2 separate regions of the Homo sapiens genome follow, and region 1 is linked to region 2. Evidence: fine-mapped expression QTL. A gene starts in region 2. The other region holds a variant in brackets. All regions are shown on one strand. Distances are between the middles of the regions.

The links. PIP is the estimated chance that this variant, and not a neighbour inherited with it, causes the effect.
Region 1: its variant is the best candidate, but not a certain one, in a credible set for the expression of LINC02453 in whole blood (INTERVAL, PIP 0.80).

The regions. Positions count from the first base shown.
Region 1 is chr12:98,466,066-98,482,495 of GRCh38, reverse strand. It overlaps LOC124902994 (a long non-coding RNA gene), which reads left to right and starts at 5,501. Exons shown (of 2, transcript XR_007063420.1): 1 at 5,501-5,621; 2 at 7,697-7,946. RefSeq lists an enhancer at 13,024-13,393. The variant C/T (reference allele first, on the strand shown) is at 3,669.
Region 2 is chr12:98,494,370-98,509,790 of GRCh38, reverse strand. LINC02453 (long intergenic non-protein coding RNA 2453) reads left to right here and starts at 5,936. Exons shown (of 4, transcript NR_038383.1): 1 at 5,936-6,031; 2 at 7,179-7,208. It overlaps TRD-GTC1-1 (tRNA-Asp (anticodon GTC) 1-1), which reads right to left and starts at 6,288; the gene lies at 6,217-6,288. It overlaps TRW-CCA4-1 (tRNA-Trp (anticodon CCA) 4-1), which reads right to left and starts at 5,539; the gene lies at 5,468-5,539. RefSeq lists enhancers at 879-1,422, 5,579-5,878, 5,889-6,198.

The DNA of each region.
Region 1 (16,430 bases), 28 kb after region 2:
GCCTCAGCCTCCCAAGTAATTGGGATTACAGTCACCCACCACCACGCCTGGCTAATTTTTTTTGTATTTTTAGTAGAGACTGGGTTTCGCCATGTTGGCCAGGCTGGTTTTGAACTCCTGACCTCAGGCAATCTGCCCACCTTGGCCTCCCAAAGTGCTGGGATTACAGGTGTGGGCCACTGTGCCCAGCCAAAAAAAACCTTTATATTTTTATTTTTAGAGATAGGGTCTTGCTCTGTCACCCAGGATGGGATGCAGTGATGTGATCATAGTTTATGGTAACCTTGAGCTCCTAGGCTCAAGGGATCCTCCTGCCGCAGCCTCCCAAGCAGCTAGGATGACAGGTGTGAGCCACCATGCCTGGATTCAATTTTATGTTTATACTTGATTGATAGCTTAGCTGAGAATATAATTCTAGTTGGAAGTTATTAGCCCTCAAAATTTTGAAGGCATCATTTCACTTTCATTGTGCTGGATTGTCTGTTGTCCAGCTATACCTCTCCATTATCCCTTCTAGAGTCCGCTCTGCATTAAAGAAGAGAAACCTGTAGTTACATGTGACAGAATCCCCTCCTTCATTTGATTCCAAGTTGGAGTTTGCCAATGAGAGGCACTTGTGTGAGAAGGAAAGCAGAAAAGAAAAACCATTATTCAACAGAGGCAGTTGAAGGCAGACACATGGGCTGAAGGCAAAATCTTGAGAGTTTCCTGTTTTGGTGCTGTCAGCAGCTGGGATTGAAGGCAGTGTCTTGCCTTAGATTGCTGAGATTTTTCCATGGCTTGCAGGTGAAGTTATGTGAATCACTGACTTCTACTGGCTGCTCTCCTGACCATCACATCCTCAACACTTAGTTTTATTTTATTTTATTTTTTTTTGAGATAGAGTCTCACTCTGTTGCCCAGGCTGGAGTGCAGTGGTGCGATCTCGGCTCTCTGCAACCTCCGCCTCCCGGGTTCAAGTGATTCTTCCACCTCAGCCCCCTCAGTAGCTGGGCTTATAGGTGCATGCCACCACGCCTGGCTAATTTTTGTATTTTTAGTAGAGACGCGGTTTCACCATGGTGGCCAGGCTGGTCTCAAACTTCTGACCTCGTGATCTGCCCGCCTCGGCCTCCCAAAGTGCTGGGATTACAGCTGTGAGCCACTGCGCCTGGCATTATATTTTTATTTTTTATTTTTATTTTTTAATTCTTCATGGTTACAAAATGCCTGCTGCAACTGCAAACATCACATCCGTGCATGATGTCTAAATTAGGAAAAAGAGAGTACAGACGCTCTTCTTCATGCATTCGTCTTATTTTATGAGGACCATAAATTGTTTTAAAGTTAGACCAGAGTGATTGGGCAAATTTATATACCTACCTGATGCCTACCCTAAATCACAGCAAAAGGAAAGGGAAACCATCAGGATTAATTAGCTGGGGCTGGGGGAAGAGCATATTTCTGCCTATGCCTGCACAAGTTGAAGCTCTTTGAGCAAGAAATAATGGGAAATGGCTGTCAAGAAGGCAACCAACTCTGTCTGCCATGTTCCTCATGTAAGGATACCGCATGTAACATGGCAGACTGTTGATCAGTGGACAACCAGTAGGAAAAATAAGATTTTAAAAAGTGTTCTAAATGCCTCACAATTATGTAATGTCATTTAATCCATCAGTAGGAGAGATGACGAGGATGACATTTTATGAGAATGAAATATCTGACAGGAATTAGCAAAAGTTTCAGAGTTTGGCCTTAGGAATAAAGTGAAGACAAAAGAATAAGAATTTGATTAAATTCACAGTTAGAACCAGATATATTACATTAATATTAATAGCAAAGGAAGCAAAGAAAGAAAATATATCCAAAGGGTAAAATGTATATTTGAAGTGTTTTGGGATTTCTACTCATGAAAGAAATGCTTCTCAGTTGGGGGAAAAGTCAGCAGACCTCTCTATGTAGCTGACGAGTTTAGCTAGTCCTGCTACTTTTGATGAATTATTAGAAGACTCACCCACTTAGAAAAAGTGTGTGCATTTAAAACAAATCATTAATAATGAAATTGATTGTAGCTTGTGAAAAACAGAACAAACAGATCTCTGTACTTCTGCTTGAAATATTAGTTCCTGAGTTTTGAAGAGATTGTGCCAGTCAGGTTATTAGTCCCATGTAACAAAACTTTGGCTAGTTAAAGCAGAAATAGGCCGGGTGCAGTGACTCACGCCTGTAATCCCAGCACTTTGAGAGGCTGAGGTGGGCGGATCAGGAGGTCAGGAGATCAAGGCCATCCTGGCTAACACGGTGAAATCCCATCTCTACTAAAAATACAAAAAATTAGCCAGGCGTGGTGGTGCGTGCCTGTAGTCCCAGCTACTCGGGAGGCTGAGGCAGGAGAGTTGCTTGAACCCAGGAGGAGGAGCTTGCAGTGAGCCGAGATCGCGCCACTGGACTCCAGCCTGGGTGACAGAGTGAGACTCCACATCAAAAAAAAAAAAAAAAAAAAAAGAGAGAAATACAATTTATTGAGGTCTAACTTAAAGCTCACAGAAACTCTGGGAGGGCCAGAATTAGGCTTGGCAGCTTGACAGTCAGAAACAAATGACTTGGTGGATACAGCAAAGATTTCATTACAGTGTCTGTCACTGAAGACCCTGTTAGAACACCCTCCCCTCCACTGCTGTCTGCTGTGAAGACCTTCATGGGAATGGCACCTCCACTGGAGCGCTCCCTGGAAGCATGGGTTCTGTGCACTGCCTGTTTTCTCATACTGTTCTTCTGCAAATTGAATCTTCATATGGGTGTATCTGGGTAGTAAGGCTTGTGCCACAAGTCAGCATGCCAGCTGCAAGAAGGGCTGAGAAGTCCAGTTTCTGATTTCCACCTTTGATGGTGAGACTTATAATGTGGAGAATTCCCCAGACATGGGAATTCTGAGCAAAAGATGCTGATATGATTTGGCTCTATGCCCTCACCCAAATCTCATCTTGAATTGTAATTCCCAATGTTGGGGGAGGGACCTGTTGGGAGCTGATTGGATCATGGGGGCAGTTTCCCCCCTTGCTATTCTCATCATAGTGGGTGAGTTCTCACAAGATTTGATGGTTTAAAAGTGTGTAGCACTTCCCCCTTTTCTCTCTCTCTCTCCTCTGCCATAGTAAGATGTGCTTCCTTCCCCTTCACCTGCCGTGATTGTAAGTTTCCTGAGGTCTAGTCATGCTTCCATACAGCCTGTGGAACTATGAGTCAATTAAACCTCTTTCTTCATAAATTACCCAGTCTCAGTTCTTTTTTTTTTTTGAGATAGGGTCTCACTCTGTCGCCCAGGCTGGAGTGCAGTGATGAGATCTTGGCACACTACAGCCTCTACCTCCAGGGCTCACGCGATCATCTTGCCTCAGCCTCCTGAGTAATTGGGACTACAGGCATGCATCATCATGCCCTGCTAATTTTTGTATTTTTTGTAGAGATGGGGTTGCGCTATGTTGCCCAGGCTGGTCTTGAACTCCTGGGCTCAAGCGATCCTCCCACCTTGGCCTCCCAAAGTGCGTGTGGGTAGTGGGTGATCAGGTAGTTCTTTATAGCAATGTGAGAATGGAACAGACTAATACAGCATCTGTGAATAGAACACATGTCAAATTGAGTAACAAACAGGCTTAAGAGCATGGAGTCAGGTATACCTTAGTTCAAGT[C/T]CAGCCCCATAGCTTCCCACCTGAGTCATTCTGGGTAACTTCTCTACCTTCGTAAGCCTGTTTCATCATTTGTAAAATATGTATGATAATAGTGGCTACATCACAGGGGTGCTGTTAAGATTAAATGAGATAGGCCAGGCACGGTGGCTCACATCTGTAATCTCAGCACTTTGGGAGATCAAGGCAGGTGGATCCGTTGAGTCCAGGAGTTTAAGACCAGTCTGAGCAACATGGTGTGACCATGTATCTACAAAAAATAAAAAAATTAGCTGGGTGTGGTGGCATGCACCTGTAGTCCCAGTTACTTGGGAGGCTGAGGCAGGAGGATCACTTGAGGCCATGAGTTCGAAGCTTCAGTGAGGAATGGTTGTGCCACCGCACTCTAGCCTGGGTGATAGAGACCCCGTGTAAAAAAAAAAAAATTAAATGAGATAAAGCATAAAGCACTTAACCTAGTGCTTGGCGTATGGTGAATAAGTCACTGATTACAAACTTATATTACTATTATTATTGATCTTCTTATTGGTATTGTTACTGGTGTTTATGTAGGACAATCAAAGCTGATGATATAAAATGTAACCATTATAGTACATTAGGTAGTTTTTGTCCCAGAAATTACAGTTTGGGAATTAAATTCAGAGCTCCCTTTTCTGGTTTAAAAAAGCCAAGAAGGATTAGTACTAATATTCTGATAATTTATAAATGCCTCTCTCATACTCACCATCTTCCTACATCTTCCTCCTGCTTTATCTGTTTTCCATTACAATCACAGAATGCCAGTTTTAGGTCAACATATGTTCTTGGCTGCATGCAGTGTCTCATGCCTGTAATCCTAGCACTTTGGGATGCCGAAACAGGAGGATCTCTTGAGCTCAGGAGTTCGAGTCTGCAGTGAGCTATGATTGCACCGTTGCACTCCAGCCTGGGCAACAGAGTGAGACCCTGTCTCTAAGAAAAAAAGAAAAAGAAATCACAATGTAGTCACTTTTATCACCATCTATTGGTATAAGGGAGTCACTAAAACCAAACCAAATTTGAGGGTAGGTGAATTAGACTCCACTTCTTGAGAGGAGAGTGACAAGGTCACATTGCCGAAGAATGTATGGGATAGAAGATATTGTTGAGGCTTCTTTGGAAAATGCAATCTCCCATAACCTGATGGGGTGAGGGTGATTGAGCCTATTTCAGCCTGGCATTGAAAGCTTGGTATGTTATTACATGAGAAAGGCAGGTTATAGAACAGCACGTATGGTATGATTCCATTTTTGCTTACAAATATGCAAAGTCATATGTGTATGTGTGTGCATGCTTGTGTGTGTGCACGTGGGTAGTGGGTATGATGTGTCAAGGACAAAAAATGGGTGTGTTAGTCCATTTTCACACTGCTATAAAGAACTACCTGAGCCTGGGTAATTTAAAAAGGAAAGAGGTTTAGTTGACTCACAGTTCTGCATGGCTAGGGAGGCCTCAGGAAACTTACATTCATGGTGGAAGGCAAAGGGGAAGTAAGGCACGTCTTACATAGCAGCAGGAGAGAGAGAGAGCAAGTGGGAAACTGCCAAACACTTTTAAAACCATCAGATCTCGTGAGAACTCACTCACTATCATGAGAACAGCACGGGGGAAACCAATCCCATGATCCAATCACCTCCCACCAGGTCCCTCCCCTGACATGTGGGGATTACAATTTGACATGAGATTTGGGTGGGAACACAGAGCCAAACCATATCAGTGTGCTAGAAATGTAACTTAATTATTTTCTAAAACTCAATTTGTGATTTATTTTCCTTTCTTTCCTTTCTCTCTTTCTCTTTCTTTCTTTTTTTTTTGAGACAAAGTCTCGCTCTGTCACCCAGGCTGGAGTGCAATGGCATGATCTCGGCTCACTGCAACCTCTGCCTCCTGGTTCAAGCAATTCTCCTGCATCAGCCTCCTGAGTAGCTGGGATTACAGGTGCGCACCACCACGCTTGGCTAATTTTTGTATTTTTAGTAGAGACAGGGTTTCATCGTGTTGGCCAGATTGGTGTCGAACTCTTGACTTCAAGTGATCCACCCGCCTTGGCCTCCCAAAGTGCTGGGATTACAGGTGTGAGCCACTGCACCCGGCCTCAATTTGTGATTTCTTTCCCCATATTTCTACGTCCAGAGTCCATCTCCTGCCCATTCATTCTGATACAGAAAATGACACTTAGTTGCTTCCAGATAATCACAATTGACTTAAGTGGTTTCTTAGTCACTGAAAGTCCTAACACTTTAGAATAGTTTCTTCTCTGGGGTGGGGAAGTGGGGGGAGCTGGTGAGGGGTAAGGCAACCATAGTCTTAGAAACCAAAGCAGTTAATTTTTTTTTTTTTTTGAGATGGAATTTCGCTGTTGTCACCCAGGCTGGAGTGCAATGGTGTAATCTTGGCTCACTGCAACCTCTGCCTCCCAGGTTCAAGCGACTCTCCTGCCTCAATCTCCTGAGTAGCTGGAATTACAGGCACAAACCACCATGCCTGGCTAATTTTTGTATTTTTAGTAGAGACGAGGTTTCGCCATGTTGGCCAGTCCGGTCTCAAACTCCTGACCTCAGGTGATCTGCCTGCCTCAGCCTCCCAAAGTGCTGGGATTACAGGCGTAAGCCACTGTACGTGGCCTAGTTAACATTTTATATATCAGCTTGCTACATATGCCTAGGAATGCTACAAATGTACATTCTGGATTATAAGAAAATATGGGACTGTCCCCCATTTCTTTTTGTCTGTATTTCTAACTTTTATACTATAAGGACATATATTATTTATATATATGTATATATTATGTTATATACTATTTATATGCTGTTTACTTATAGGATTAATTTTTCAATCCACATAATCAGGATTGATCAATATTTTTTAATATCAAATAATCCCAGGATATAAATCTAATTGCTATAATACAATAGCATTCAATTAATCATTAGTGTATTATTGCCAATGGGAAATTTAAGAAGCATATTTAAAAGAGTAGAGTTATAACTCAGTTGAACCTCTGATTAATTTTATCAGAAGAGATGAAGTCATTGGAGGAAGAGTAAATGCTGTTTAGGGCCAGCTCCTAGTTTAGGTTAGCTTAGATTGGTAGGTTTTAACTCACTTAGTGGGTCATTCCTAGGACAGAAGAATCTTAGGCTCTTGGCCTGGAGCTGTTGGTTTGCTCTAGGGTAAAAATTTGGATCCTAGTCAGATTACAAATTTAGTTAAGTCTCATATAGTCCCTGAGGGAGGGGAGATGGGGGTGCTGTTTTTCTTCGCAGTTTCTGCAGTTGCTTCAGCCTGGAGCGTGCTGTTGCTGCCAGGAAGACAGGCCTGTCTAGTGTAATCTACGAGAGAGAATGCTTGGCATTCCTGGACAATGAAGCACAGAGAGAAAATGAAGATTCCCTGAGAGGTGCCAATCTCCTTGAAAATAAATCAGATTTCAGCCTGGGCAATGTGGTTAAACCCCGTCTCTACAAAAACTACAAATATTAGCTGGGCTTGGTGGCATGTGCCTGGAGTCCCAGCGACTTGGGAGGCTGACGTGTGAGGATCACTTGAGCCTGGGAGGCAGAGGCTGCAGTCAGCCAAGAGTGCACCACTGCACTTCAGCCTGGGTGACAGAGCCAGACTCTGGCTCAAAAAAAAAAAAAAAAAAAAGAACAAGAAAAATAAATCAGAAAATCAGATTATTAGGAGAGCCCTGGGAGAGGAGGATGTGCAATTGTGTGTGTGTGTGTGTGTGTGTGTGTGTGTGTGTGTGTGTGTGTGTGTGTGTGTGTGTGTGTCTGTGGTTTTAAAACAAATTGAAAAACTTGATGGGAAATCATAGGAAAGCTTATATAAAGGGAGGATCAGAGGAAACTTACAAGCTGCTGAAATCTGTATAATATCAGGATTTAAGCCACGGAGATAATCTAGGAATGAACTTTTTAGATAGAAAAAAAGGTGATGTGTTTTTCTTGAATAGACCTGTTGATTTGTTCATTCAGGTTTTTTTTTTGTTTTCTGTTTTTTTTTTCTAGAAACTCAAGACCTGCTCGTGTAAACAAAACCTTAATAACATTTTGATTTCTAAAGGTTTATGTTCATTGTTTCTAAAGTTTTAATAATGAGGAAGGTGAAAAAAATTTATTATTATAAATATCAATTGCAAGAAATCATATTAAAACAATGTCCTTAAAGTTTAAGATTTTTCCCACTTCAAATTCCTGGAAATGTAAAAACACAATCTTTCAGTTTTTCTTGTTGAAATAATAAAGTGTTCTGAATAAATCTACTGATTTTACATAGAGTTCTATGGCTTTGATACTATAAAATGAAATGGTTTGAGATTGAAATAATTCAATTATTTTAAATATTCCTGCAGTTCTTAAGTGTGTAGCCTTATTGGGAACCTAAAGTGGAATAAGACAATTGCCTAGTGTCTGTATTTATAGTGTAGGTCCCTGTTGGAAAATTTCATTGAGGTTTCTTTTTCTTTCCTTCTATTTTTTTTCTTTCCTTTTTTTTTTGTTTTTTTTTTTTTTTTTGAGACAGGGTCTCAATCTGTTGCCCAGGCTGGAGTATCCACCTGAAGCCTCCACTTCCCTGGCTCAAGCGATTCTCCTACCTCAGCCTCTCGGGTAGCTGGGATTATAGGCACTTACCACCATGCCTGGCTAATTTTTTAATTTTTCTGTAGAGATGTGTTTCACCATGTTGCTCAGGCTGGTCTTGAAGTCCTGGCTCAAGAAATCCACCCACCTCGGCCTCCCAAAATGCTGGGATTACAGGTGTGAGCCACCGCGCCTAGCCCCAACTCACAGTTTTTAATTGCTGTGAATACTCCATGGTGTGCATCATTAGGAGGAGAGCTTTTTAAGGAGGCAAGAGAATTTGACAAACGTGGTAGAGATGGTCAGTAAGAAGGGTTACACATTGGGAGATTTAGTAGTATGGAGGCCAGTGGCAATGTTTGGTGGAGCAGGTTCTTGGGGTCGTGGGGGTAGAAGCCAGACTGCACCGAGCAGAGGCCTGTTTGGGAGGAGAGCAAGTAAGACATTGACTACACTCAGCCTGCGAGGGAAGCTGGACCATCCAGGGAAGGAGCAAGGGGATGCAGAATCAAGGAAGAGCTTGGAATTTTTAAGCTTTTGTTATCCGAATAATCCATGTTCAATGTAGAAAAATTAGGAAATTCAGATGAGCAGAAAGAAAATAACAAAATGGAAAGTATATTCATTTCTTAGGGCTACCGTAACAAATTACCACAAACTGGTGCCTTGAAAACAACACAAATGTTTTTGTTTCTGTTCACATTGTTCTGGAGGCTATCTGAAATCAGAGTGTCAATATGGCTGTGCTCCCTCTGAAGGCCCTACGGGAGTACCCTTCCTTGCCTCTTCCTAGTTTCTGGTGGTTGCTGGCAATTGTTGGTGTTCCTTGGCTTGTAGCCACATCCCTCCAATCTCTGCCTCCATCATCACAGGGTGTTCTTCCTGTGTGTCTCTTCTGGGTCTCTGTTTTCTCTTATAAGGACACCAGTCATTAGATGAGGACTCATCCTAATCTAATAGGATCTCATCTTTTTTTTTTTTTTTTTGAGATGGAGTCTCTGTCACTCAGGCTGGCGTGCAGTGGCATGATCTCGGCTCACTGCAACCTCCGCCTCCTGGGTTCAAGTGATTCTCCTGCCTCAGCCTCCCAAGTAGCTGGGATTACAGGCATATGCTGCAACGCCTGGCTAATTTTTGTAATTTTAGTAGAGATGGGGGTTTCACCATGTTGGCCAGGCTGGTCTCAAACTCCTGACCTCTGGTGATCCGCCCACCCTGGCATCCCAAAGTGCTGGGATTACAGGTGTGAGCCACTGCGCCCCACCAAGACCTCATCTTAATTTAATTATATCAGCAAAGACCCTCTTTCCAAATGTGGTCACATTCTGAGGTTCCAGGTAGACATGAATTATTGGGGAACACTATTTGACCTAGCATTTCTTTTTGCTTTCTTTTTTTTTTTTGACACAGGTCTCGCTCTGTCACCCAGGCTGAGGAATGCAGTGGTGCCATCTTGGCTCACCATAATCTCACCTTTGAGGCTCAAGCTATCCTCTCACTTCAGTCTCCTGAGTAGCTGGGACCACTAGTGCGTACCACCATGCCAGGCTCATTTTTTTTTTACATTTTTGGTAGAGACAGGGCTTTGTCGTGTTGCCCAGGCTGGTCTTGAACTCATGGGCTTAAGCAATCTGCCCACCTTGGCCTCCTAAAGTGCTGGGATTATAGGCGTAAGCCACTGCGCCTGGCTAGTATATTCTTTTCCCCTCTCCCCTCCTCTCTTTCTCTCTCTCTCCCTCTCTGTCTCTCAAAGGATGAGGGGAAGCATGAGTGTGTTTATAGATTAAATGAAAGAGTTAGGAGAAAAGAAGAGGTTGGAGATAAATCTTAGATACTTGGTAGGTCAGAGTCTCAGCAGAGAATGGAGAGGTGGGTTGGAGAGCACTGGGGAAGGGGATGGGCCTGGGGCCTGCCTGGGTCACACAGCCTTGCCTGGTCACTGACTCCCAGCCTGATGCGGAATTACTCTCCTCAAGAGCACCCTGCCTAGGTACAGCCTTTCACGGGTCAGCCTTAGCAAAGGCTGTGATGGGAGGGAAGAGGAACATGCCCCAAATGGGATCAAATGCAGGGCTCTGGGAGAGAGCTGACTGGAAGGATGCTTGCATCCTACCCTTCACCTCCTCTCTGGGGTTTCAGGAAAACATAATGATCATAATGATGTTTTTATGTTTCCTGTGATGTTGGTCATCTTCCCCTCCGCAACCCCTGCCTCCCTTCAAGTTTTGCCTGCATCTTATAAACTGGAAAAACCCAAGAAACTCCTAAGTTCTATATAGTTCAGTAGTAGGTAGTGGCCTCTGCCAGTCGGAAAATCCCAGAAACATGGCCAGTTTAAAACCAACACTTGGCCGGGCGTGTGGCTCACGCCTGTAATCCCAGCACTTTGGGAGGCCGAGGTGGGAGGATCACAAGGTCAAGAGATAGAGACCATCCTGGCCAACATGGTGAAACCCCGTCTCTACTAAAACTACAAAAATTAGCTGGGCGTGGTGGTGTGTGCCTGTAGTTCCAGCTACTCAGGAGGCTGAAGCAGGAGAATCGCTAGAACCTGGGAGGTGGAGGTTGCAGTGAGCCGAGATCATGCCACTGCACTCCAGCCTGGGCAACAGAGCGAGACTGTCTCAAAAACAAAAAACAAACAAACAAAAAACCCAACACTGGAAATGGAAATGGACTTATCATTACGGCCCTAGTTCAGCACACACAAGATGTATAGGGAAACCAGTATGATAGGCCTGATGACCCTGGGCAGGTAGTCAAGGGTAAAGTTTCTTAGGTGATGAGAGGCCTGGTACTTCTAGTCTCTAACATGCATTCTTGAGCAGGGATGTGATGTACCCTACAGAGGACACACTGGCCACTGTAGCTGACAACACAGGGAGACCAAGGCCAGGGCAGATGTGCGCAGGACCTTGAAGGCAAGAGAGTTAAAAAAAAAAAAAATCCCTATCTAAGTGGGAGGAGCATCTCCCACTCAGTGCAGTGAGCTGCAGGCATTCATCAGGTGTTCAGTGAGTTCTGATTAGGGACCGTGCTGGCCTTGGAGCTATAATGAGGAACACGTTGTTCCTGCTCACACAGAAACTACAATATTTTGGGGTGTGTATTAGTTCAGTTTCTTTTGGCTTTAGGAAGCAGAAATGACCTTGCAAGCTTGTTGGAGGAATATTAGAGGTTCTTAGAGAATTCGCAGAAGACAGCTTGGGGCCCCTTACTAGCCAGAGGCTAATAACATCCTCTGAAGAGTGCTATTATTTGTGTGAAGGAGTTTCAGTGTCCAATCTTTGTATGACTCAGTCCCAAATTGCTACAGGGAGACTGTGGCCCAGCTCGAGTAAATCATCTGTGGTTCAGGGCTCAGGGTTATGAAGTACACACATGGTTGTCGCAATCCTACCTGTGTGTATTGAGTGCATCCCCACTTCCTTCCCTCTCAGTTGAGTGCCCCAGCGATGGGCAGAATGCATGAACCTGAAAGCCACTGTCTTCTGGACAGAGAGGTAGACAGGTAGACAAGCACCCAGCAATTACAGCTCAGTCATCAGTGCTGTGCTAGGGGAAGCATAGAGTTGTGTGAGAATACATCAGTCAAGACCCATTTGGAGGAAAGGTTTAGAAACCCAGCTTATTATTTTTTAGGGGTTGTTGCAAGTTTTGTTTTTCTTCCAACTTTTAAGTTCAGGGGTACATGTGCAGGATGTGCACGCTTGTTACATAGGTAAATGTCTGCCACGGTAGTTTGCTGCACAGATCAGCACATCACCTAGGTATTAAGCCCCAGCATCCATTAGCTATTCTTCCTGATGCTCTCCCTCCTCCCACCCCCACCCTCTAGAACCCCAACTTAAACCAACTTAGGCAAAAAGAAGGGGACTTACTGGAAGGCTCACACTGAGAAGGATGAGTGGCAGGTGGTATCAAGGTCATTGGAACAGGTGATTTGAGTGCTGCTAGGTCTTCTTTTCTCAGTCTCTCAATTCTGTTTCTCTCTCTGTGTTGTTAACTTCTTTCTCTTAGAAAAGCTTTCTTTACATAGCAAGAAATGTGGCCACTAGCAGTTCCTGAGTCTCACCATCTCCTGGCCTCACCAACAGAGAATAAATAAATCTTTGTTCAGCTTCAGTTACAAAAATCCTAGGGAATGACAAAGATTGATTGGCTTTAGATAGGAGTCCATCCAGCCGGGCGCGGTGGCTCATGCCTGTAATCCCAGCACTTTGGGAGGCCGAGGTGTGTGGATCACCTGAGGTCAAGAGTTCTAGACCAGCCTGGCCAACATGGTAAAACCCTGTCTCTACTAAAAATACAAAAATTAACTGAGCATGGTGGCAGGCGCCTGTAATCCCAGCTACTCAGGGTGCTGAGGCAGGAGAATTGCTTGAACCCAGGAGGCAGAGGTTGCAGTGAGCCGAAATCATGCCATTGCACTCCAGCCTAGGGGACAAGAGCAAGACTTCGTCTCAAAAAAAAAATAAAAAAAAATAAAATATATGAGTCCATCCCTACATCAATGAAGTGTACCTAGAGAAGTAGAATAGTGTAAAACCATATGCCATACTAAAGCTGTATGATGATTTAATGACAAACCAAAATGATTGACATCAAGTACTTTAGGTTAATAGTCCTGTACTAGTTATCTGTTGCTGCATAATTAATTACCTCCAAACTTAGTGGCTTAAAACAACAATAAATATTTGTGATTTCACATAGTCTCTGTGGTTTGAAATTTAGGACTGACTTAGCTGGGTGGGTCTGTCTCAGGGTCTTTCATGAGATTGCAGTCAAGGTGTTGACTGGGTCTGCAGTCATCTGAAGGCTTGACCAGGGCTGGTGGATGCAGTTCTAAGATGGCACACAAGAGTGAGCTCACTCAGTTCCTCCCTATGTGGGTCTTTCCACAGGCAGCTTGAGTGTCCTCATGACACGGTGGCTGCCTTCTCTCAGGGTGAACAAGCCAAGAGAGTGCAAGGTGAAAGCCACAACATCTTTAATGGCCTAGCCTTAAAAATCACACTGTCTCATTTCTGCAATATTCTTTTCATTACACAGGTCAGCCCTCTTAAATGCGGGAGGGGTCACACAAGGATATGAATCCTAGGCTGTGAGAATCACTGGGGGTCATCTTGGAGGCTGGCTACCACATTCCCCAAAACTCATTCTGTAGAATTGGGATGTTAAAAGTTTTTATATGAAGAAGGGCTTTGCAGTCAGTCAGTATTAGAAAGGATACGTTAAAGCAAGTTAAATAGATTTCTTTCTCTCAGTCATTCTATACAGTTTTTAGTACTCTGACTCTCACTTTGAATCTTTCTCTCTCTTTCTCTTTCTTTTCTTTCTTTCTTTCTTTCTTTCTTTCTTTCTTTCTTTCTTTCTCTCTCTCTCTCTCTCTCTCTCTCTTTCTTTCTTTCTTTCTTTCTTTCTTTCTTTTTTTTTTTGACAGAGTCTCACTTTGTCACCCAGGCTGGAGTGCAGTGGCATGATTTCGGCTCACTGCAACCTCCTCCTCCCAGGTTCAAGGGATACTTCCTGCCTCAGCCACCCGAGTAGCTGGAATTACAGGTGTATGCCGCCACACCTGGCTAATTTTTGTATTTTTAGTAGAGATGGAATTTCATGGGGTTTCACCATGTTGGCCAGGCTGGTCTCGAACTCCTGACCTCAAGCTATCTGCCTGCCTCGGCCTCCCAAAGTGCTGGGATGACAGGTGTGAGCTACCGCACCCGGCCTCACTTTGAATTTCTGAAAGAGGGACAGAATAAATAACCGTAGCACAGCTTCCTTCTTTTTTTCTTTTTTCTTTTTTCTTTTTAGAGCTGGAGTCCAGCTGGAGTGCAGTGGCATGATCTTGGCTCACTGCAACCTCTGCCTCCCAGGTTCAAATAACTCTCATGCCTCAGCCTCCCAAGTAGCTGGGACTACAGGTGTGCACCACTACGTCTTGCTGATTTTTGTATTTTTAGTAGAGACGGGGGTTTCACCATTTTGGCCAGGTTGGTCTTAAACTCCTGGCCTTAAGCAATCCACCTGCCTCGGCCTCCCAAAGTGCTGAGATTACAGGTGTGAGCCACTGCGCCCAGCCAGCACAGCTTCTTTCTCATTCTCCAGCTTTTCCCCCAGTGGGCCTTTCTCCGCTCCACCATCTCTCTTTCCTTCCCTCTACAAGCATATCAGACTGCTGTCTGTCTCCTGTTAAAAATATAAGCTTCTGGCCAGGTGTGTTGTCTCACACCTATAATGCCAGCACTTTAGAAGGCGGAGGTGGGAGGATTACTTGAGTCCAGGAGTTTTAGACCAGCCTGGGCCACATAGTGAGACCCCTGTTTCTACAAACAAAATAAAAAAATTAGCTGGGCATGGTGGTGGATACTCGTAGTGCCAGCTTCTCAGGAGACTGAGGTGGGAGGATCACTTGTGCCTAGAAGGTTGAAGCTGCAGTGAGTCATGATCATGCCGCCTCTCTCCAGCCTGAGTGACAGAATGAGACCCTGTTTAAAAAAAAAAAACAAAACAATGCCAGGCGCGGTGGCTCACGCCTGTAATCCCAGCACTTTGGGAGGCCAAGGTGGATGGATCACCTAAGGTCAGGAGTTCGAGACCACCCTGACCAACATGGAGAAACCCCGTCTCTACTAAAAATACAAAATTAGCTGGGTGTGGTGGCACATGCCTGTAATCCCAGCTACTCGGGAGGCTGAGTCAGGAGAATCACTTGAACCCGGGAAGCGGAGGTTGCAGTGAGCTGAGATTGCACCATTGCAGTCCAGCCTGGGCAACAAGAATGAAACTCCATCTCCAAAAAACAAAACAAAACAAAGAAAAAGAAAAATAAGCTTCTGATAAAGCAATACAGTTTCATCTGGAGTTGGTCATTCTTGACCCTCCAAAGCCTTCTTGTCCATTTGGTCAGTGCACATCATGAAAACCTAGGAGTGATTAAAAAGGAAAGGAACACATTGTCACATGAAGGTGGGTAGTCAGTCTGAGGAAGTTCTGCAAGAGAAATTTTACAAAGCTCTCTATATTGGCCATGGTGTTGGGTGATATTGAGTCATAAAGTAACGAATACTATTTGAAGGCCAATAATCATTCACACATGAAAGTTTGGGCTGCCTCTTTAAGATATGTTTGTGTGGGGGAAACAAGGTACAGGTTAGTAACATCTTGTACTTTGGTTTTTGCCAACAAATACGAGACCTTCCAGTTTTAGGACTTACCCCGTCTCCTCTCATCAGTGTGACTGTTGTTATTTCTTTTGTGTAGGCTATTTGTCATGACAACAACTCAGTTTATTTAAAGTGTTTTATCATATTTCTGTGAGCTGGTTATACCATCTTGAATTATTTAATTCAGAGTAAACACTGAGGTGGTGTGTATGTGAAAGAGTCTACACCATATGTGTTTATGGAAATGTGCTTATTGAGATGTCGTTTCCAAGCACGGCATCTGCTCTTGTGCATCTTTTATATTATTTTGCATGGAGCCTATACAATGATTGATCTCCACCATCTGATAGTTTTCCTTTTAAGACAGTTTCCCTTCTTATGTTCTTGATAAATGATAATGTTTAATATTTGGGAAGAAAAAAAGCATCTAAATTAAAAATAAGAATGATCAATAAAAATGTCTTCTGAGTTCTTTAATTTCCATTATGCAGTGCATGATTTTTAGAAAGAGCTGAAATCTGTGCATTTAGAAGAGTAAGGTTTTCTGAATATTATCTCAAATGGAAAAGCCCAAGTTTACTCAACCTGTGATTCACACAGAGGTCTAGGTCTCATAAAGACTGCTGAAAATCAAATCCTCCTCTTCACCCTTTTTCCATGGACTGAACATTTGGGCTTTGGGTTCCTATAAATATACTCTGAGTTCCTGTTTACAGTGTTCCTAGGCATCCTGCCTTGCTGCACAAGATGGAGTTTTACAATGTCCAGTGTTACCTAATGGCTTCTTTAAATTGCAAATTCACCTTACCATCCTTGGTTGTCTCTATGGAGAGAAAACTTAATAAATCCCCAAATACAACCCCACAGAGACCTGTACATGCACATGTACTGAACTCAGAAAACAATGAGTCATGCAATCAACTAGTGTTCATCTATCTTCTTAAAATAGCACTTGAAGTAATTTATTATTAATAACATTTTCTGCTGGGCACAAT
Region 2 (15,421 bases):
ATTTTCTTTTTATTTATATGTCTGTATTTCCCTAGATTTCCACAATGAACACATATGATTTTAAAACCATATTTTTCTTTTTAAGTGAGAGTGCTAAGTTGGAGAACCATTTGGCTTATCAGAATTCAGGTCTGCATTTCAATTCTGCGTGTCCAAAAGCTCAATTTTATTAGTTCGTCCAGAATACATCGCTCTGTAAACCAAGAGAATCGGAGACAGGTCTCAATCAATTTAGAAAGTTTATTTTGCCAAGGTTAAGGACACACCCATGACACAGCCTCAGGAGGTCCTGACGACATGTGCCCAAGGTTGTGTGGCACAGCTTGGTTTTATACATTTTAGGGAGACATGAGACATCAATCAATATGTTTAAGATGTACAATGGTCCCATCCAGAAAGGCGGGACAGCTATTAATACAAGTGGGGGTTGGGGGGCTCCGGGGTGTTCCAGGTCATAGGTAGATAAAAGACCAATGGTTGCATTCTTTTGAGTTGCTGATTAGCCTTTCACTGAATACACTATTTACAGGAATAGTCACTTATGTTAGTCTGGCTTAGGGAAACAAAAGGGCAATCAGATATGCATTTATCTCATATGAGCAGAGGGATGACTTTTTAAATCTCTATCTGTCCTTTGTCCACAAGGAATTTCTTTGTGGTCAAATTGTGAGGGAGGTATATATAGCTTTTTTATCTTAGTAGCTATCTTTTTTTTTAGGAGTAGAATGGGAGGCAGGTTTGCCCTAAGCAGTTCCCAGCTTGACTTTCCCTTTGGCTTAGTCATTTTTGGGGTCCTGATGTTAGAGGGGTTTGAATCACAGCACCTCCATGTTGAAAAAAGGGTGGGTAAGGCCGTGCACGGTGGCCCATGCCTGTAATCCCAGCACTTTGGGAGGCCAAGGTGGGTGGATCACCTGAGGTCGGGAGTTTGAGACCAGCCTGATCAACATGGAGAAACCCTGTCTCTACTAAAAATACAAAATTAGCTGGGCGTGGTGGCACATGCCTGTAATCCCAGCTACTCAGGAGGCTGAGGCAGAAGAATCGCTTGAACCCGGGAGGCGGAGGTTGTAGTGAGCCAAGATCGCGCCATTGCAGTCCAGCCTGGACAACGAGCAAAACTCCGTCTCAAAAAAAAAAAAAAAAAAAAAAGAAAAGACCTACTGGGCTGCATTCCCAGACAGTTAAGGCATTTTAAGTCACAAGACGAGATAGGAGGTCGGCAGAAGATACAGGTCATAGGCCGGGCACGGTGGCTCACGCCTGTAATCCCAGCACTTTGGGAGGCCAAGGCAGGTGGATCACGAGGTCAGGAGTTCGAGACCAGCCTGACCAACATGGTGAAACCCTGTCTCTACTAAAAATACAAAAATTAGCTGGGCGTGGTGGCGCGTGCCTGTAGTCCCAGCTACTCAGGAGGCTGAGGCAGAAGAATTGCTTGAACCTGGGAGGTGGAGGTTGCAGTGAGCTGAGATTGCACCACTGCACTCCAGCCTGGGCGAGAGTGAGACTCTGTCTCAAAAAAAAAAAAAAAAAAAAAAAAAAAGACACAGGTCATAAAGACCTTGCTGGTGAAACAGGTTGCAGTAGCCTGCCAAAACCCACCAAAACCAAGATGGCGATGAGAGTGACCTCTGGTTGTCCTCACTGCTACACTCCCACCAGCACCATGACAGTTTACAAATGCCATGGCAATGTCAGGAGGTTACCCTATATGGTCTAAAAAGGGGAGGCATGAATAATCCACCCCTTGTTTAGCATATAATGAAGAAATAACCACAAAAATGGGCAATCAGCAGCCCTCTGGGCTGCTCTGCCTATGGAGTAGCCATTCTTTATTCCTTTACCTAATAAACTTGCTTTCATTTTATGGACTCGCCTTGAATTCTTTCTTGTGTGAGGTTCAAGAACCCTCTCTTGTGGTCTGGATTGGGACCCCAGTAACACCGAGATTTTTCTTTCACAGGACTTAAGTAACTAAAATACTCTCAGAAAAGAAAGCAAGGCTATTAAACAGGTGAAATAAATGCTCAGAGCATTCTATAGTAGTGGATAAGTCCTCTTGCAAGAATACATGAATAGACATTTCTTAGTGAAATAGAACAAATCCACAGAGCTGTCTTTTCTAGACAGGTCCATGTTTCAGTTCAAATCCTGACACTTCATAGCTCTTGATAGCTCTTTGTTTCCACCTTTCCTATAAAACTCTTTCCGTATATCATCCCTATATCATGAGTATAGAAGATTAAGTTAAAAAGTGTTGGATTTGCAGTCATTTCAAAGTTATAGAAAGTCATCAGATGGAGCATTCTAAAAAACTACAGATGTCCAGCCTTGGGAAAGAATCTGGGACCTGGGAAGTGACAGTTTTAGAGCCATAACAGTATTAATAATGACATGTATAACAGCTTCAAAAACATTTTGATGTATTTTATCTTATTTGATCCTTTTAACCTGTGGGGTAAGTAGGACGTCTAGTCTTGCCTTGCTTTATAGGCCGGAGGTCCTCAAACTTTAGCTTGCATCAAAACGGCTGGAAGGTTTGTTGCTGTGCCCCACACCCAATTTTCTGAGACTGTAGGTCTGAGGTGAGGCCTGAAAATTTGCATTTCTAACTTATTCCCAGGATGGTGGTCCAGGAACAGTTCTTGGCCATTTTTTAGTCTTTGTGAAGCTGGCTGGATTGTCTTAGTCATGAATTATAGTTCTGCATTGCCCTCAGAATAAAATCTAAATTAGTTGGAATGGCACACTGATCCTGTATGCTGACGCCTATTTACCTCTCCAGCCATTCTGCAGAACTAGTAGTTCTTGACGGAAGCTGTATTCGTTTGCCAGGGCTACCATAATAAAAGTAAACAGATATTTATTTTCTCAGAGATCTTGAGGCTAGAAGTCTAAGATCAAGAGGCCAGCAGGGTTGGCTTCTTCCTAGACCTTGGCTTGTAGATGGCTACTCTCTTGCTGTATCCTCACATGGCCTTTCCCCTGTGTGCACACATCCTTGGTGTCTGTGTGTCCAAATTTCCTCTTATAAATATGACACCAGTCAGACTGGATTAGGGCCCACCCTAATGGCCTCATTTTTACTTAATAATGTCTTTTTTTTTTTTTTTTTAAAAGAGAGTCTTGCTCTGTCACCTAGGCTAGAGTGCAGTGGTGCGATCTCGGCTCACTGCAACCTCTGCCTCCCGGGTTCAAGCAATTCTCCTGCCTCAGCCTCCCGAGTAGCTGGAATTATAGGCACCCGCCACCGCGCCCAGCTAATTTTTCTATTTCCAGTAGAGACAGGGTTTCACCATGTTGGCAAGGCTGGTCTCCAACTCCTGATCTTGTGATCCACCTGCCTTGGCCTCCCAAAGTGCTGGGATTACAGGCGTGAGCCACTGCACCTAGCGTACTTAATCAGGTCTTACGATCATTCTGAGGTACTAGGAGTGAGGGCTTCAACATATGAATGTTGGGGAGATGAAATTCAGCCCATAAACTGGGTGTGGTGGCTCACGCCTGTAATCCCAGCACTTTGGGAGGCTGACGCAGGTGGATCATGAGGTCAGGAGTTCAAGACCAGCCTGGCCAACATGGTGAAACCTTGTCTCTACTAAAGATAACAAACAAACAAACAAAAAAATAGCTGGGTGTAGTGGGGTGCACTTGTAATCCCAGCTACTTGGGAGGCTGAATCGTTTGAACCTGGGAGGCGGAGGTTGCCACTGCATTCCAGCTTGGGCGACAGGGTGAGACTCCATCTCAAAAAAAAAAAAAAAAAAAAAATTCAGCCCATAACAGAAGCCATTTCTTCCCTCTGGCATCATTTGCATATACTGCATATATCGTAGCTTGGACCAATCATGTTAACTCATTTGGACAAAACCATATTTTTGTGATGTAGATGGAGAGGTTGTATCACCTTGTTATAGCCTCATACAACCCAATGTGGAGTTACTGTCCACTGTTTTAGCACCCCCATACCACTCTGTTCATGTTACTTTCATGGTTCTTACCAAGTAACATGAACTTACCCCAACACATTATGGCGTTTGGTGGCTTAACATATCTGTCTCCTGATGCTCAAAAAAACCCATTTTTACTCAGTGTATCCTCATCCTTAGTACTTAGCACAGTATCAGGCTCATCAGAGTTGACAGTCCATAAATACCCGTTGAAATGGATGATCTAATTTTAATCCAAACAGGAGAGGGAAGAACAAACCACACCATGTGCAAATATAATTTCCAGGTATACTGCTACATTAGGTTGAATCAAAAGAAATTAGTGTTTGGTATTTTCAAAATACTAAGCAGAAAACCTCAGGAATTTTACAAAACATATCATCAAAATCTAAAACTATTAATTTCTCATAGTCTTGCTATTCATTTTCTGTTCAACAAATATTTGACACTTACGTGTAGGGCACTATTTAGTACTAAGAGTCCTGGAGCTTGCAAATGTGAACGAGCAAGCTTTGCTTCCTGCTATTAAAGAGATTAATAGTCAAAAGTGGTGACTAGTCATCACTCGCATAATCGGTGAAAACATAAAAGGCGCCCAGTCCAACAGCTTTTCCCACATTCCTCCCCGCCACCCACCTCCAGAAGGAGTCTTGCTTGGTCACCCAGGCTCACTGCAACCTCCGCCTCCCGGGTTCAATCAATTCTTCTGCCTCAGCCTCCGGAGTAGCTGGGATTACAGGTGCACCCCACCATGCCCAGCTAATTTTTGTATTTTCAGTAGAAATGGGGTTTCACCATGTTGGTCAGGCTGGTCTTGAACTCCTGACCTCGTGATCCACCCACTTTGGCCTTCCAAAGTGCTAGGATTACAGGTGTAAGCCACTGAGCCTGGCAGTCACACATTCTTTCAACTGTTTGTTTCCACCTTTATTATAAAGTATTTATAAAGAGGGATCCAGAGTCCCTCACCTGGTTCAGAATCTTGGGTGACCCTTGGCAGGTCACTAACCCTGTGAGCCACAGCCACATTTGTAAAAGTGGGATAATAGTCACACATTGTGAGGTTGTTCACAGTGTTGGCACATGGTAAGGGCTAAGACACTTGATTAGCATAATATTCAAAATTAGAAATTGTACACTATTGTACTCTCTTTCAAAAGGCAAACAGCCTAAAACTGTTTGGAAAAAACAGCTTGTACAGTATATTGTACACTTCCTGTGATAGACTAGTGGACTGATACACCCACTAATGCACAGCAGTAATAGTCCACCTCTTTACACATTATGCATGTTAAGTGACAAAAAAACTCACTTTAAAAGGCCAAATGATAAAAACATCAGCCTTGAGGCTCTTCGATATAGAGTAAATCATATCTTCCTGCAAACCAAGGATTAGTATCATAATACCTGAAAGAGGAAAACTTAATTCTAACATTCAAGAAAATTGGCGGCAGGAATACACCTCGGCTTCTAGTAGTCGGTAGTTTAAAATACAGGAGGAAAAAAAAAAAGTTTGACCCCGACGTGATTCGAACACGCAGCCTTCTGATCTGGAGTCAGACGCGCTACCGTTGCGCCACGAGGTCCTGCTGGGCTGTGGCTCGCGCAGTTTCTTAGGACACCAGTAAATGGCGTTTCTTCCAGGGGTACCAGTCTTTCTCTTCCATTTACTCTCTGCCCCTCCACCCAGTATCTGTCGGACCAGGAGACCGATTCCTTCAGCGTCCAAACTTTCCTGACTGCTAGTCCTCTAACCAAGGCTGGGACGTAACCAGCGGAAGCGGGAGAACGGGGCTTCCCGTTTAGTCGGGTCTCCAGGATCAAAGGAAATTGGCCCTTCCTTTTCTTTACCAAATGATTTCCGTTCTTACCCGCCCTGCCCCCGCCCCGTTAGTCGCGAGACTCCGCCCTCTCTCCCCTCCCCCAACAGGTTCCGCGCGCTGAGTTCGCGACCTCGAGTTGTAATCTGGCGGGGCGCCACTAAGCCGGCGCAGGCCTTCGCAAGATGGCGGCTGGAGGCAAGGGCAGAGGCCTTCAGAGCGTTTTCTTTTTCCCTTTCCTCCCTTCCTGCAAACAATGTAAGGCATTTTCTCTCAGGGGAGGCTTTCACTTCATGGTGGGCATTAAGGTTAAAAGTCACCATTTTGAAGACAGGGTTGTGCACTTAAGGGAGCTGGTTTAGCATATTATGTTTAACAGCAGTGTCCTGTCATTGAATGATACAGAAAATAATAACTGTCGCCAAAAAAGTGCAGCTACACACCTCCCCGTCGGGGAATTGAACCCCGGTCTCCCGCGTGACAGGCGGGGATACTAACCACTATACTAACGAGGAGTCGTTAGGCTGTGTATTTTCTCAGACAGCCCTTCAAGGAGCAGTAAGATCCTTCCAGCGCTCCGTAACCTTCCGCCTGCCCCCGGGAAGTACGAAAGTCCGGTCTCTTGGAGCCGCTGCTTAGGCTTATTGTCCTCTCTGGGCGCTTTGTATTCTTGATGTTGGTGGGAAGAATAAAAGGTGTGGAATATGTGAAGGAAACGCGCTTCCCATGTTAGTGCTAGAGAAGTGTGTGAAAATAGTTTTTCCGAGGCTCTTGACGCGTTCTAAATGATTTAGGTTGCCGTCCTGAGTTTTTTTTTTTTAACTGACCACTGGTATGTGACTTGCGGCTGAGCCTTCCCCTTACAAATTTATACTTTCACTCTGAAGTTCAAGTTCAAGGATAGCATATGGCTGCCAGATGTCGGGGACAGTTAGGGTTGCCACGGTCTCGTGCCTCTTCAAACAATTCATAAGTCTTTTTTTTTTGAGAGGAAGTCTCGCTCTGTCCCCTAGGCTGGAGTGCAGTGTTGCGATCTGGGCTCACTACAACCTCCACCTCCAAGGCTCAAGTGATTCTCCCGCCTCAGCCTCTCGAGTGGCTGGGATTACAGGCGCGCACCACCATGCCTGGCTAATTTTTGTATTTTACTAGAGACGCGGGGTGTGTGTGTGTGTGTGGGGGGGGGGAGGGTTCACCATGTTGGCCAGACTGGTCTCGAACTCGTGACCTTTAGTGATCCACCTGCCTCGGCCTCCCAAAGTGCTGGGATTTACAGGCGTGAGCCACCGCGCCCGGCCAATTCACACACTTTTGTAACACAAAAGCGCCCAATGAAATGACCAGCTGCGGGCAAATGAAATTTTATCAAAATTTTATCAGCCGACTTCTGTTTCGCTCTCTGTAGGTGGCTACAGTTTAACTGGAAGTGACAAACGTAAGTATGTGAATGGCTAAATAATAATGCGTTTAAATAATTCAAAACCAGGATGTGCCACTGATTAAACATATGGGTTAGGAAAGTGCACTAATCGGATAATTTGATAATTTGTGTCATCCTAAACCCGTTCATAGACAGGATGAACCCTCTTCCCAGGGATACTAAGAGAGCCTTATATGTAAACTTTTTTTTTTGAGACGGAGTTTCACTCTTGTTGCCCAGGCTGGAGTGCAGTGGTGCGATCTTGGCTCACTACCACCTCCGTCCCCCGGGTTCAAGCGATTCTCCTGTCTCAGCCTCCCGAGTAGCTGGGATTACAGGTGCCCACAAACACGCCCGTTCAATTTGTGTTTCTAGTAGAGATGGTAATTCACCACGTTGGTCAGGCTGGTCTCGAACTCCTGACCTAAGGTGATCCACCCACCTCGGCCTCCCAAAGTGCTGGGATTACAGGCGTGAGCCACCGCGCCTGGCTATAAACTTTTGATTTTCTCTAAAGGAGTGTGTTTATAGGCACAGATAAACTGACATGATTGAAAGCGTTTCATTATAGAACTTAAACTTACGTGTCTCGTCTCCGACCCAACCAATCAGGACTCCCAACTCACTGACCCCTACCCAACAAATTATCCTTAAAGATAATAAAAATAACAACAACAACAACAACAACAACAAAAACCCCACATATGTGTCTTAAGGAATCCCTTGTTTCTAGTGTGCTACGAATTAATGTATTATCCATCATAAATTATAAGGTATTTTTCATCTGATGGAAGGGATAATTTTTTTAATGCAGATATTAAACAAATGGCAGTTTCTGAGGCTTGTTTTGGCTTTTCTTTCTTTTTTGCTCTCATTATTATTATTATTATTTGAGACGGAGTCTTGCTCTGTCGCCCAGGCAGGAGTGCAGTGGCACGCTCTCGGCTCACTGCAACCTCCGCCTTCTGGGTTCGGGCGATTCCTCTGCCTTAGCCTCCCGAGTAGCTGGAACTACAGGCGCACGCCACCACTCCCTTTTGTATTTTTAGTAGAGTCGGGGGTTTCACCATGTTAGTCAGGCTGGTCTCAAACTCCTGACCTCAAGTGATCCACCCGCCTCGGCCTCAAGCGGCCGCGCTCAGCCCTTTTTCACTCTCTCTCTCTTTTCTTTTTTTGAGACGCAGTTTTGCTCTTGTTGCCCAGGTTGGAGTGCAATGGCACAATCTTGGCTCACTGCAACGTCTGCCTCCCGAGTTCAAGCGATTCTCCTGCCTCAGTCTCCCAAGTAGCTGGATTACAGGCATGTGCCACCACAGCCAGCTAATTTTGTATTTCTAGTAGAGACAGTTTCACCATGTTGGTCAGGCTGATCTAGAACTCCTGACCTCAGGTGATTCACCCGCCTCGGCCTCCCAAAGTGCTGGGATTACAGGCGTGAGCCACCGCGCCCGGCCCCTGTTTCACTCTTAACTACACCGAAAGCCTCAATACAAACTCTCAGTGTGTGGGAGCCTCCTTCCACTTTGATCCTCCAAAAACTTTTGCCAGGGCCAAAGGGCACTGTGATAGCTATGATGACGTCCTTTTCCTAGTAAAATCGAAGGGACTTCCCCAAGTCTCTCAGTTCGTAGAGCTATGGGGCAGTGAACCCAGTTCTCCTGAATCAACTGTTTGCCCCGTGTTCTGCACTCTCGGGAAAAGCAGCTTCATCTCTTCCTTTAGAAGAGACATCCTTTCCACTGAAGCTCTCGTAAAGCTATGCCAGTGCTCACACACGTGTTGTTACTGCTCCTTTTTCATCCCTGGTGAAAGTAAGAGGCAGTCTGAGTCAGTGAGATCAGGGAGCAGGGAACGCAGCACTTGCTGTCCATCATCCGAAAATGGAAAGGAAAAGAGAGGGCAATTAACCTGAACAGGGTGAGGGAGCTCAGAGGTTCCTCCCTGTCAGCACTGGGCAAAAATAAAGGTTAAAATCTGACTGGCAGTACAGAGGGCATGGAACTCTCTTCGGGAATAAATGGCATGATGACAATGAGTGTTATTCAAAGTTTCAAATCCTGCTCTTCCTAAAGAACTATGCTGCATATCTCAGCTTGCTAAATGATTCACATTCATTTTATTTTCTCAACAACCTGTTAGGTCAATGGGACAAGTGTTTTTATTCCTATTTGGGAATCTTCTGCAGGATCACACAGATAGGAGGTGGTGAAAGGCCAGGAATCACCCAAGCTCTGACTGCAAAAACCAGTTTTCACCCTACCTGCACAGTTCCATATACATGTATATTAACAAATAAGTACATGCTATGGAGAGAAAAACTTTATAACTAGTATCAACATATGTGTCACCCTTGTTCCTATATTAATATTTGCTAATCTTTAATTACTTGGCAGACACTGTAGTTATTCATTAACTTATTGAACCTGCAACGTGCCAGACATTCTTTTAGATGCATGGGGAGGTTCTCATAAATACATCTTGTTCTTCTAGATCTTTTATCCTACAGAAGAAATACAGATAATAAACAATGAATACGATAAATGGATACAAACATCATACATAAGTATGTCAGACAGTTATAAGAGCAGAAATAAAAATAGCAGAGTAAGGGGGTTTGGAGAGTAGCAAGTTAAATAGGTCAAGGTAAGCCTCATGAGAGGGAGTTTTGCTCTGTCACCCAGGCTGGAGGGCAGTGGTGAGAACTTGGCTCACTGCAACCTTGGCCTCCCGGGTTCAAGCGATCTTGTGCCACAGCCTCCTGAGTAGCTGTGCCACAGCCTCCTGAGTAGCTGTGCCACCACACCCGGCTAATTTTTGGTAGAGATGGGGTTTCACCATGTTGGCCAGGCTAGTATCGAACTCCTGGCCTCAAGTAATCTACCCACCTCGGTCTCTCAAAGTGCTGGGATTACAGGCATGAGCCACCGCGCCTGGCCAAAGGTATAATTTGAACATAGTTGAAGGAAGTAAGAGATGTAGTCATGCAGCTGTCTGGGAGGCCTGAGGGCCTTAGAGGTCATTGGAAAGACTTTGGCTTTTATAATTAGGGAAACGGGGACCCACTTCAGGGTTGTTGGATTTTTTTAACATTAAGAAAATTGATACATAGTAATTATACATATTTATGGAGTGCATGTGATATTTTAATACATGCATACAATGTGTAATGATTAAATCAGGACATTCAGCATATCCGTCACCTGCAACATTTATTATTTCTTTGTGCTGGGAATATTTCAAATCCTCTCTTATAGCTATTTTGAAATATACAATAAAGTATTGTTAACTGTAGTCACCCTACTGTGCTATTCAACACTAGAATTTATTCTTTTCTTTTTTTTTTTTTTTGAGACAGAGTCTCGCTCTGTTGCCCAGGCTGCAGTGCAGTGGCTTGATCTTGGCTCATTGCAATCTCCGCTTCCCGGATTCAAGCCTCAGCCCCCACTAGTACCTGGGATTACAGGCACGCACCACCACACTTGGCTAATTTTTGTATTTTTAGTAGAGACGGTGTTTCACCATGTTGGCCAGACTGGTCTCTAACTCCTGACCTCAGGTGATCCACTCGCCTCCACCTCCCAAAGTACTGAGATTGTAGGCATGAGCCACCGTGCCTGACCTAGAATTTATTCTTGCTATCAGATTGTATGTTTATACCCATTAACTAACCTGTCTTCATCTCCTTCACCTTGCCCTTTCCTAGCCTCTGGTAAGTATCATTCCTCTCTAACTTCCTGAGAACTGCAGGGTTTTGAACAGAGTAGTGATATGGTCAGATTTATGTTTTAAAGGGTCTTTGGCTGGGCAACATAGCAAGACCCCATCTCTACTAAAAATTAAAAAAAATTAACTGGGTGTTGTGGCTCACACCTGTAGTCACAGCTACTTGGGGAGCTGAGGTGGGAGGATCACTCGAGCTCAGGAGTTCGAGGCTGCAGTGAGCTATGATCATAGCTCTGCACTTAAGCCTGGGCAACAGAGTGAGACTGTCTCAAGAAAAAAAAAGGATCTTTGGCTACTGGATTGAGAGTAGTTTGTAGGAGGGCAAGAGCAGAAACAAGAACTATGAAGTCTATTGCAATAATCCATATGGGAGATGTTGGTGGGTGGTTCAGGCTACAGTGAAAGTGATGGAGAAGGTGAGAGGCGCTGATGTACTTTGTTTATTTTTTTGAGACAGGATCTCACTCTGTCACCCTGGCTGGAGTGTAGTGGCGCAATCAGGGCTCACTGCAGCCTCAACTTCCTGGGCTCAAGAGATCCTCCCACCTCAGCCTCCTGAGTAACTGAGACCACAGGTGCATGCCACCACGCCCAGCTAATTTTTGTGTTTTTTGTAGACTGTTTCATAATGTTGCCCAGGCTGGTCTCGAACTTCTGGGCTCAAGGGGTCCTCCTACCTTGGCCTCCCAAAGTGCTAGAATTACAGGCCTGAGCCACTGTGCCTGGCCCCAAGTGCTATGTATTTTGAAGGTTGAGTCAATAGAATTTCTTGGTAGAGTAAATGTGAGATATGAGTTAAAAAGAGGAGTCAAGGATGCCTCCAGAATTTTTGGCCTGAGCAACTGGAAGGATGGAGTTGCCATCACTGAGGTTGAGAAGAGTAATGCACAACTCCAGAGGGCACCATTCATATTGGCAGTCATGTGAAGGGCATAACTGGGAAGAAGTTGTTAAAATAAAAACTTCAGCTGAATTAAATGTAAAGGAATTTGGCCAGGAGCAGTGGCTCACGCCTGTAATTCCAGCACTTTGGGAGGCCGAGGTGGGAGGATCACCTGAGGTCAGGAGTTTGAGACCAGTCTGGCCAACATGGTGAAACCCCGTCTCTACTAAAAATACAAAAATTAGCCGGGCATGGTGGCGCGTGCCGGTAATCCCAGCTACTTGGGAGGCCGAGGCAGGAGAATCGCTTGAACCCGAGAGGTGGAGGTTTCAGTGAGCAGAGATCAAGCCACTGCACTCCAGCCTGGGCGACAGAGCAAGACTCCATCTTAATAAATAAATAAATAAATGTAAAGTAGTTTATCTGAGCAATAAACTATTCGCGAATCGGGCAGCCCCCAGAATCACAGCAAATTCAGAGAGACTCCAGGGATGCCTGGTAGTCAGAACAAATTACAGGCAAAAAAAGGGAAGTGAGGTACAGAAATCGGAAGTGAAGTACAGAAACAGCTGGATTGGTTACAGGTTGGCGTTTGCCTTATTTAAACACAGTTTGAACACTCAGCAGTGTATGAGTGGTTGAAGTATGGCTGCTGTGATTGGCCAAGACTCAGCTATTGTTAGAGTCGTATACTTCTAAATTAGGTTTTCAATCTTGTCTACCCATTAAGTTAGCTTATGGTTGTCCATAAGGACTCAAATATGGAAGTACGGAGTCCTTCTCTGGCCATATTTAGTTCACTTTAACAGAGGCAAGATGCCATCCATAGACTGTGCTGTGGATGGCACTCCTTGGAATTGTGCACTATGGCAGCCCTGCATGTGGAGTAATGACCCTGGTGGGAGCAGGGGGATGATCAACATTTCAGTTTTGGACATGTTAAGGTTGAGACATGAAGTAGTCAGTTGAATATAATGGTTGAACACTCATTGTGTAGGTAAAACACAGTACTAGGTTCTGGAGATACAGTGATGAACAAAGACCCTGGTCTCAAGGAGCTTTTATTTCAGTGGAGGAGACACATAACACTAGTAAAAGAATAACAAAAATAAAAAAGTAAAATTACAGGCCGTGTGCAGTGGCTCACACCTGTAATCCTAGCACTTTGGGAGGCCGAGGTAGGCGGATTGCCTGAACTTAGGAATCCGAGACCAGCCTGGGCAACACGGTGAAACCCCGTCTCTACCAAAATACAAAAAATTAGCGGGGCATGGTGGTGGGCACTCCCAGCTACTTGGGAGGCTGAGGCAGGAGAATTGCTTGAACCTGGGAGGGGGAGGTTGCCGTGAGCAGAGATCGTGCCACTGCATTCCAGCCTGGGCGTCAGAGCGAGACTACGTCTCCAAAACACACAAACCAAAAAAAGTAAAATTACAACTGTGACAGTTACTAAGATAATGGGGAAGAGCAAAGGAAAGAGCTTCTTAGGTAGATGGAACTGGATGTGCTAAGGTTGTAGGAACAGAGGAAATGTGGTGAGTAGAGGGTGTGAAAGAAGGCAGAAGTGACTAGAGAGGAGCAGAGGGTGAGCAGCATCATGGGGAGATGAGGCTGAAAAGGCTGATGGGAGTAGGACAATGCAGGGCCTTCCAGGCTGTGTTGAGAACTTTTGGGGGAGTGCCTCTTATTTCTGTCTGTCTGTCTGTCTGTCTGTCTGTCTCCACTTACTTATTTACTATTTTTAGGGTTTATTGAGGTATAATTTATGAGGGTAAAATTTACTCTTTTTAAGGGTACTAGTCTATGAATTTTGACCATAATTAAGATGTAGGCTGGGCACAGTGGCTCGAACATGCAATCCCAGCACTTTGGGAAGCTGAGGCAAGAGGATCATTTGAGTCCAGGAGTTCGAGACCAGCCTGGGCAATATGGTAAGACCCCCCTCATCTTTACAAAAAATACAAAAATTACCAGGTGTGGTGGCATGTGCCTGTGGTCTGGGCTACTCAAGAGGCTGAGGTGGGAGAATTGCTTAAGCCCGGGAGGCAAAGATTGCAGCGAGCTGAGATTGAGCCATTGCACTCTAGCCTAGGTGACAGAGCCAGACACTGTCTCCAAACAAACAAACAAACAAACAAACATACATTTATCCTAAGATCCAGCAACACTGCTCGTAGATATTGACCTGAGAGAAATGAAGACATATGTCCACAAAAAACCCTGCACACTTATGTTTATAATGGCTGTATTTATAATAGTCAAAAACTGGAAACTACCCAAATTTTGGAAATTTGAGTTTAATAGATTATGGGAAATTACAAGAACTTACTGTCCATAAACATTAAAATTGAAAGGTGAATGTTTTTGATTTGGGCCTGGAAGGCAAATTAGATGGATACATGTTTAAATTATTAAAGTGAGGGGTGGGGAAGATATTCGGGATGCTCATACTTCACTATTCCCCAGTCTTTATTTATTTATTTATTTATTTATTTATTATTTTTTGAGACAGAGTCTTACTCTGTTGCCCAAACTGGAGTGCACTGGCGCCGTATCGGCTCTGCATCCTCTACCTCCTGGGTTCAAGTGATTCTTCTGCCTCAGTCTCCTGAGTAGTTGGGATTACAGGTGTGCACCACCACGACCGGCTAAGTTTTTTGTATTTTTAGTAGAGACGGGGTTTCACCATGTTGGTCAGGCTGGTCTCAAACTCCTGACCTCAAATCATCTGCCTGCCTTGGCCTCCCAAAGTGCTGGGATTATAGGCATGAGCCACTGGGCCCAGCCTCTAATTTATTTAAATAATAATTTAAAGTTAAAACTGAGAGGAGGTGGGTGGACCTCGAGGTCAGGAATTCAAGACCAGGTTGGCCAATATGGTGAAACCCTGTCTCTACTAAAAATACAAAAATTATCTGGGCATGGTGGCATGTACTTGTAATCCCAGCTACTGGAGAATTGCTTGAACTGGGACCCTGGAGGCGTAGGTTACAGTAAGCCGAGATCACGCCACTGCACTCCAGCCTGGGCGACAGAGCGAGGCTCTGTCTCAAAAAAAAAGCAAAAAACAAAAAACTGAGAGGCAAAAGTCTGTCTCCCTTCAGCTCGACTAACACTTAGTCTTTTCTTTCCCTCCTTATTTAAAAAAATAAATCTTTATTGATTTATCTTTTGTGCCAAGCATGGAGATAGGCATTGGGCACAAAAAATTAGTAAGACTCACTTCTTGCCCTCAAGGAACTCAAATTTCTTGAGGGAGGTGGACTTTTAACTGATAGTTACAATACAATTTGGTAAGTGCTATGGTGGAGGCATAGCTCATGCTGATGGAGAGCCTGCTATGCCTTAGGCTTCAAGTGCCTTATATAATATTAACCATTGTCCAAGGACAAAGTTATAACAGATTTAAAGATCTTAATTGGCTTCCATTTGTGATTCTAAAATCAGGCAACATCTCATTCCATAAAATAGAATGAGTATTTCAATGAGCTGAACAGAAGAGTTTGGCTTTTATTTTATTTTTGAGACAGAGTTCCGCTCTTGGTGCCCAGGCTGGAGTGCAGTGGCACAACCTCAGCCCACTGCAACTTCTGCCTCCCAGGTTCAAGAGATTCTCCTGCCT